Linked DNA regions of Homo sapiens. The protein of the gene in region 1 interacts with the protein of each later gene in a pairwise test. Each region holds a gene or a part of one and is shown in the gene's direction. Other genes may lie near its edges.

The links. The genes of interacting proteins can lie anywhere in the genome.
Region 2: the proteins of PSMB1 (region 1) and UBASH3B interact in binary tests that used the Homo sapiens proteins (3 or more experiments, as listed by UniProt).

What each region holds. Positions count from the first base shown.
Region 1 is NC_000006.12:170,536,308-170,539,807, reverse strand, and holds part of PSMB1 (proteasome subunit beta type-1), read left to right. Parts: intron 1-2,467; coding exon 2,468-2,574; intron 2,575-3,500. UniProt on the Homo sapiens protein: Non-catalytic component of the 20S core proteasome complex involved in the proteolytic degradation of most intracellular proteins. This complex plays numerous essential roles within the cell by associating with different regulatory particles.
Region 2 is NC_000011.10:122,781,222-122,784,721, forward strand, and holds part of UBASH3B (ubiquitin-associated and SH3 domain-containing protein B), read left to right. Parts: intron 1-1,831; coding exon 1,832-2,001; intron 2,002-3,500. UniProt on the Homo sapiens protein: Interferes with CBL-mediated down-regulation and degradation of receptor-type tyrosine kinases. Promotes accumulation of activated target receptors, such as T-cell receptors and EGFR, on the cell surface.

The sequences.
Region 1 (3,500 bases):
ATAAACACTATGATGAACATCCTTGTACATACATTTTTGTGTACTTCCCCAATTATGCTTGTCTTGCTAGAATAAACTTCGAGTAGTTGAAGTATTGGGTCAGATAAATTTTTTTTTGTATTTTGTTGAGTATACTCTTTCTGAAGGATACGCCAGTACCCTGAGTACCCGATTTTATATAACCTTCCCAGTATTAGAATTAACACATTTTGAAACATCTTTTTGCCTATTGAACAGTTTATTATTTTCATTTATATATATTCTTGGGCATGTTTTCATATGTTTATTGACTTTATAAATTTCCTCTTTGGAGACTGATTCATATATTAACTGTTGCCCATTTCCTTATTTGCAGGTTAGTTTTCTTCTTACTGATTTTCAAGAACTACATTCGACTGTGTCAAATGTCTGTGATATTATAGATACTCCCAAGAGTGTTATTTGTCTCTTTTGGGTGGTGCCTTTTGCTACACAGAAATTGCTGTGTTTCATACAGTCTAATCTGTCAATCATTTCTTTATGACATTCAGTTTCTTGCCTTGTTAGAAAAACTTCTCCCATCCAAAGCTTAGCTGTATTTCTTTTAAGACTTGTCTGATTTTATTTTTTACATTGAAATGATTGTGCTTTTTGGATTTTACTTTGATGAGGAAAAGCACTTTGTAATCAAGATTCATGCCATTCTACATTTATTTTTGTTTTTATTTATTGATTTTTGCTGTTTTATACTGATTTTACTAGTGTCTCTCTTGCTTCTTCTAGGGGGTCTTTAAAGCTGTGTTCTTGGACATAGCCCACCCTTTCTTTGGTTTATTTTTTTAAATTTGTTGTGTGTGGTTTTCTGAGATTGGTTCCATCCTTGGGTAAAGCTTTTGGGCCTCAGTTTACTTGTGGCCTGTCATCCTCATGAGAGATACAATCATTTTTCTGCCTTTACACCTTACATCTCTTTCTTTTTTTGTATATTGAGGTTAGTGGATTGCCTGCTGTGATCTCATGTCTTGTCCCAAGCTTGCTTCCAGCAAAAATACTTCCCAGTTTCTTAGGTGACCTCAGATGGTGCCTTCTCCACCAGAGAATTCAGTTTACACAATCCTTTTTCTTTTTTTGAGACCAAGTCTCGCTCTGTTGCCCAGGCTGGAGTGCAGTGGCATGATCTCGGCTCACCACAACCTCCGCCTCCTGGGTTCAAGCGATTCTCCTGCCTCAGCCTCCCAAGTAGTTGGGAATAGAGGCACGTGCCACCATGCTCAGCTAATTTTTGTATTTTTAGTAGAGATGGGGTTTCACTGTGTTGGCCAGGCTGATCTCGAACTCCTGACCTCGTGATCGGCCCACCTCAGCCTCCCAGAGTGCTGGGATTACAGGCGTGAGCCACCGCGCCTGGCCAAGTTTACGCAGTTCTATAGTAGAAAACATACAAAGCTAACAGTGGCAGTTGTACATGGTTAGTAAGGAGATTGTCCCTATATCACATCTCCCAGGGTACTGAGTTCTGGTATATAATGTGTTTTCTAAATCAGTTATGTTTTTAAAAAATCATACCTTGTAAATGACTCGTGATTTCTCATACCCAGAACACGGTTGTTTTTAACAGGCCTTTTTAACGATTGTAGAATCACCTGTGTTCTTTGTAACAAACTCAAATAAGATAGAAGCACATGAATTAATTCCCTTCTTTTCTTGCCTCTAATTCAGAGCTCAAAGATGACCAGCCACAGTTACTTATCTTTCCAGACTTTTTTGTGCTTGTACAAATAGTTTTCTTATTCTTTTAAACAAAAGCAGTATCGTATTTTACAGGTTACAGAATTCTCTTCGTTTTACTGTGTCTTGCGGATGTGTCCCTTGGACCTGTCTATATACATAAGTCGTGCTTTCCTTCAAGTTCTCCTCTTCGTTAGCTTAGGAGAGCCAAGAAATAAAGACTTTCTTACAAATGACTGTTTGAGTTTGGCTGATGTGTCCTACAGAAACCTCACCATCTCTCTCTGTGTTCTCCCTACTCTCTTACGGGTCCTTACCTACTACCATGGCTTGGATTATTTTTGTGTATTCTCATGGCTTCCAACTGTTTTACATCTGCAGTGGTTAATTCTCTTGTCATCTTTACCTGAAGATCATAAAAATGCCTTTCTCCCTCTTACCCACCCTTTCTGTGTTACTCAATATTGTATTTTAACTCCCAAGCCTACAGTTTACCCTTGAACAACACACCAACACGGGGATTGGGGCTGTCTGCTGGGTGGCACCTGTGCAATGGTGACTGGGTTCTGGCTGTCACATGTGCAACAGTGTGTGTGCTGCAGCTGTCACCAGTGCAACAGTGGCTGTGTTCCAACTGTTCCCTGAAGTTTTAGCCAAGGTGATAGTCCGTTTTGTGTCACGTTTTGACCTGATTTATTTTTGCGATGATTTGGGATTGTGATTGGATACCATCCTTATGAATACTGTTTTCTTCTTTAAGGAAAGGGGGCTGTATACAGCTTTGATCCAGTAGGGTCTTACCAGAGAGACTCCTTCAAGGCTGGAGGCTCAGCAAGTGCCATGCTACAGCCCCTGCTTGACAACCAGGTAATGATACTGTGTCCAGGTAATGATACTATGTCCAACTTGTCATGGTGTTCAGTTGAAGTGCCTTCCTCCAAGTTCTCCTCTTCATTAGCTTAGGAGAGCCAAGATATAAAGACTTTCTTATAAATTACTGTTTGAGTTTGGCAGACGTGTCCTACAGAAACCTCATGGTCTCTCTCTGTGTTCTGCCTACTCTCTTGTGGGTCCTTACCTACTCCCATGGTTTTGATTGTTTTCCTGTATTCTCATGGCTTCCAACTCTTTTATGTCTGTAGTGGCTAATTCTCTTGCTGTCTTTACCTGAAGATCATAAAAATGCCTTTTTCCCTCTTACCCCCCCTTTCTGTGTTACCCAATACTGTACTTGAACTCCCAAGCATACAGTTGAGCCTTGAACAACACGGGGATTGGGGCGCCAGTTCCCCGAGCACTGGAAAATCCACATATAACTTTCGACTCCAAGAAAACTTACAAATAAGCCTACTGTTGACTGGAAGCCTTGCCAATAATGTAAACTGTGGATTATCACGTATTTTACATATGTATTATGTGCTGTATTCTTATGATAAATAAACTACAGGAAAGAGAATGTTATTAAGAAAATTATAGGAAGAGAAAATACATTTACAATACTGTATTTGTTGATACTGTAAGTTTACATCATCTGTTTACAAGGAGAATCATCTGTCTGGAGTGGTGGACAACCACAGCTGCAGACCTCAATCTACAGTACATATCAAGCAATTCAGCTTTTTCTTGTGATGTCATAACTTTCCCTGCTTCTTGGGGAGCAGTTCCAGCATCACTAATAGTGCTTTGTTTGGGCCACTTGTTATTTAAGGTTTATAATAATCGCACTAAACACAATGAAAAACAAAGGAGAACATTGAGAGATCACTTTAACTTTTTATAATCAGTTTATGTGT
Region 2 (3,500 bases), on another chromosome or scaffold:
GACTTCAGTGAAGCCTGACATTTCATAGGAGCTTAATATTTCAGAGAAAGAGCATAACTGAGAGGCAAATTATTTCCTGCTCTTATCCCTCAATCTCAAGGAAATGGCTTTCTCTCATCCCACAGTAGTTATTGTCAGAACCACTAAATCCCCACAAGGACCAAAACTAATGTCAAAGCCGCAAAACCCAAATCCTTCACAAATGAGAAAAGCAAGCCTCAGCCAGGGCCGCACAGATTCTTGGAGTGCATACTGAGTGAGCAGCAGTCGAAGCCCCAGCTTTCCCTGTGGGACGCGGGTGGAGCCAATTCCTCTCCAAGATCCTGCTGTCATGAAGAACTTGGCCGGCTTCGTTTCTCTGCTGTTGTGTGGCCCCCTGGTGGGGATGTGGAGAACTGGATGACCCTGCGCAGCTTAGCTGGTCCCGCTCCTTATTACCCAGCATGGGAAGCCGGCCACCATGTCTTTGCCCTGGAACTTGGTATTCTCCAGTTGTTGGCAGGACCAGATATCATCAAGTAGATTTAGTGTCTTCCTCCATTTGAAGTGGTCAAGGGAGATTCATTCATGTGCATTTATTCATTTAACAAGTACTGAAAACCTGCATGATATGCTGAGTAAGGATACAGTGTAAGCGAGAGACAAAAACCTTGTTTCATGGGGCTTACACCAAAGAAAGGCAATGCAGTATAAAAGAAAAAGTACTTAAAACCGAAATGCTCAATTTCTAGTTCTATCTTGGGCCACTAATTCTCTGTGTGACTTGACCAAGTTCCTTAAATTCTCAAATTCCCTAATTTCTTCTAGTTGCAACTTCTTCATTATTCTAGTTTGTACAGTAGATGATTCTCCCTCATTGTAAATACAAAAGAGGCCAGGCATGGTGGTTCACACCTGTAGTCCCAGCTACTCAGGAAGCTGAGGTGGGAGCATCACTTGAGCCCAGGAGGTGGAGGCTGTGGTGAGCTATGATCATGCCACTTAACTCTAGCCTGGGCAACAGAGAAAGACCCTGTCTCAAAAAAAAAAAAAAGTACCAGAGAGAGAAAAAAAAGCCATTCCCTCCTATAGGTAGGGTTGTTTTGTTTTGTCTCTTGGGATATCTTAGAATAACAGTCTGTATACTTTAAACCAGTATGTCTCAACTAAGGGTGATTTTGTCTCCCAGGGTACATTTGGCAATGTCTGAGGTCATTTTCAATTGTTACAGCTTGGAGAGTGCTGCTGACGTCTTGTGGGTAGAGGCCAGGGATGCTGCGAAACACCCCATCATGCACAGGACAGCCACCCCCCCCAAAAAATAATTATTCAACCCAAAATGCTGTTGAGAGAAACCCTGCATTAAACTTTGAAAATATCCATCTTTTCCCCTCATTTCTCCATCAATCTCACCCAGAAGCTAAGACACGTGATTCCAAAATGAAGGGAATAGAGCTTTGGGAGTCACGCAGCTATAAAACATGCTTTGTATTTCTACACAAATTATTTCATCACTGTAGGTCATAGTGCCCTCTTCTGAAAGGTGGGGCTGGTGACCACCAACTGGAATGTTGTGAGAAGGACTTAACTAAAAGGACTGCCCTCAGCTGACCCGCAGCTCCTAGAGGAAAGCCGTATGGTGGCTATCTCTTGAACAGTGGCTTGATTCGGAATCTCTTGCCATCCCCTTACCCCCTTATTCTACTGCTGTGAAGGAGAGAAACGTCTTTTGTCTTCTTTGTTATGTGGGAAGCAGAATTTCTCAGGGTACCTTTCTATGCCTTTCCTTAAGTCTTCACCATTGCTATCATCACCACCTTTTAATTACTGACCTTTTTCTTCCTTTTTCCAGAAGTGCATGTGGAACCTCATAAGAAGCAGCTACATGTGACCCTGGCTTACCACTTCCAAGCCAGCCACCTACCCACCCTAGAGAAACTGGCCCAGAACATTGACGTCAAGCTAGGGTGTGACTGGGTGGCTACCATATTTTCTCGGGATATCCGATTTGCTAACCATGAGGTAATGTCTCACTGTGGTTCCAGAAGCTACCAGGTGCAGGGATGCAATCAGAATCAGCAGCTCGCTGCTGCAGGGAGATGGGTACCTACAGGGGAAAAATGGAGCAAGCACCTAACAGAGAGTCCGTTGGCTCAGGATTGTGTCCAGCCTCTGCTTGCCTCACTGGGAGGCTTCCAGCTTGCCTCCCTCCTCTCTGGGTCACAAGTGGTTCATCTGGGTAACATCCCCCTAGTTCTGTCTCCCCTGCCAATCCAACTCCAGCAAAAAAGAAATGAAATGGGAGAGAATAAATAAAAAATATATTGGAAAATTTTTAATATTATATAAATTTATGGTGTTAATGGAAGACATCATTTTGACCTTAGGTGAGTTGAAGAACATATAAATACCAAAGAAAACAAAACAAAAAACAAAAACACTTGCAAAGACATAATCAACAGATATTTGCTGTGTATCTGTATCATGCAAAGTACCATGGAGCATACTGGAATTTTTAAATGTTGTCCTGTCCTCAAGGAGCTTTGAGAACAGACACACATGAAAAGAAAACTCAAGTCACCTCTTGTGAGAGTTTCTGCACATCCCAGTGGGAGGCCTGAGTGAGAAAACTGAATTCCATCACAAGAAGAAAGATTGGTACACCCCTAGCACCCTTCCTTTGAGGGAATCAACATTGCCTTCTAGACAAGTATGTGACATCTTGGAAGCATAATATTGCCTTTTTTTTTTTTTTTTAAATGGAGTTTCATTCCTTGTTGCCCAGGCTGGAGTGCAATGGCACGATCTTGGCTCACTGCAACCCCTGCCCCTGGGGTTCAAGCGATTCTCCTGCCTCAGCCTCCCTAGTAGCTGGGATTACAGGCACCCGCCACCACACTGGGCTAATTTTTTGTATTTTTAGTAGTGCCGGGGTTTCACTGTGTTGGCCAGACTGGTCTTGATCTCAGGTGATCTGCACGCCTCGGTGTCTCAAAGTGCTGGGATTACAAGCGTGAGCCGCAGCACCTGGCCAATAGTGTCTTTTTCTATCCTGAAGGAGAAGCTGAGACACAAAAAACATTAGTGTCTTAGTAATTTAGGGCTAGAGATGAAGCAAGAGCCCATGTATTTTGACCAATAAAGAAGGGCAACCTGTCTGAAACAAAACTACATCATAGCCAGGCATGGTGGCTGTCACCTATGATCCCAGCACTTTGGGAGGCTGAGGCAGGAGTATTGCTTGAGACCAGGAGTTCCAAACCAGCCTGGGCAGCATAGTGAGACTGTATCTCTACCCACCCACAAAAGACCTCATCGTTTGTTAAAAATGTGCCTTCCAACTTAACTACATTTATTAAGCAATACTTATATTTGTTTCCCAATTTTTCAAACAGCCAAAGAACTGGTATTTTTGTTAGTTTACATAGCCTTTTAACATCTCTTTTAGACTTCTTTAAAAAACAAAACATGAAAAACAGTTAGAACCCCAGGGCTGGGAGCAGGCAAGCTCATTGTTTTGG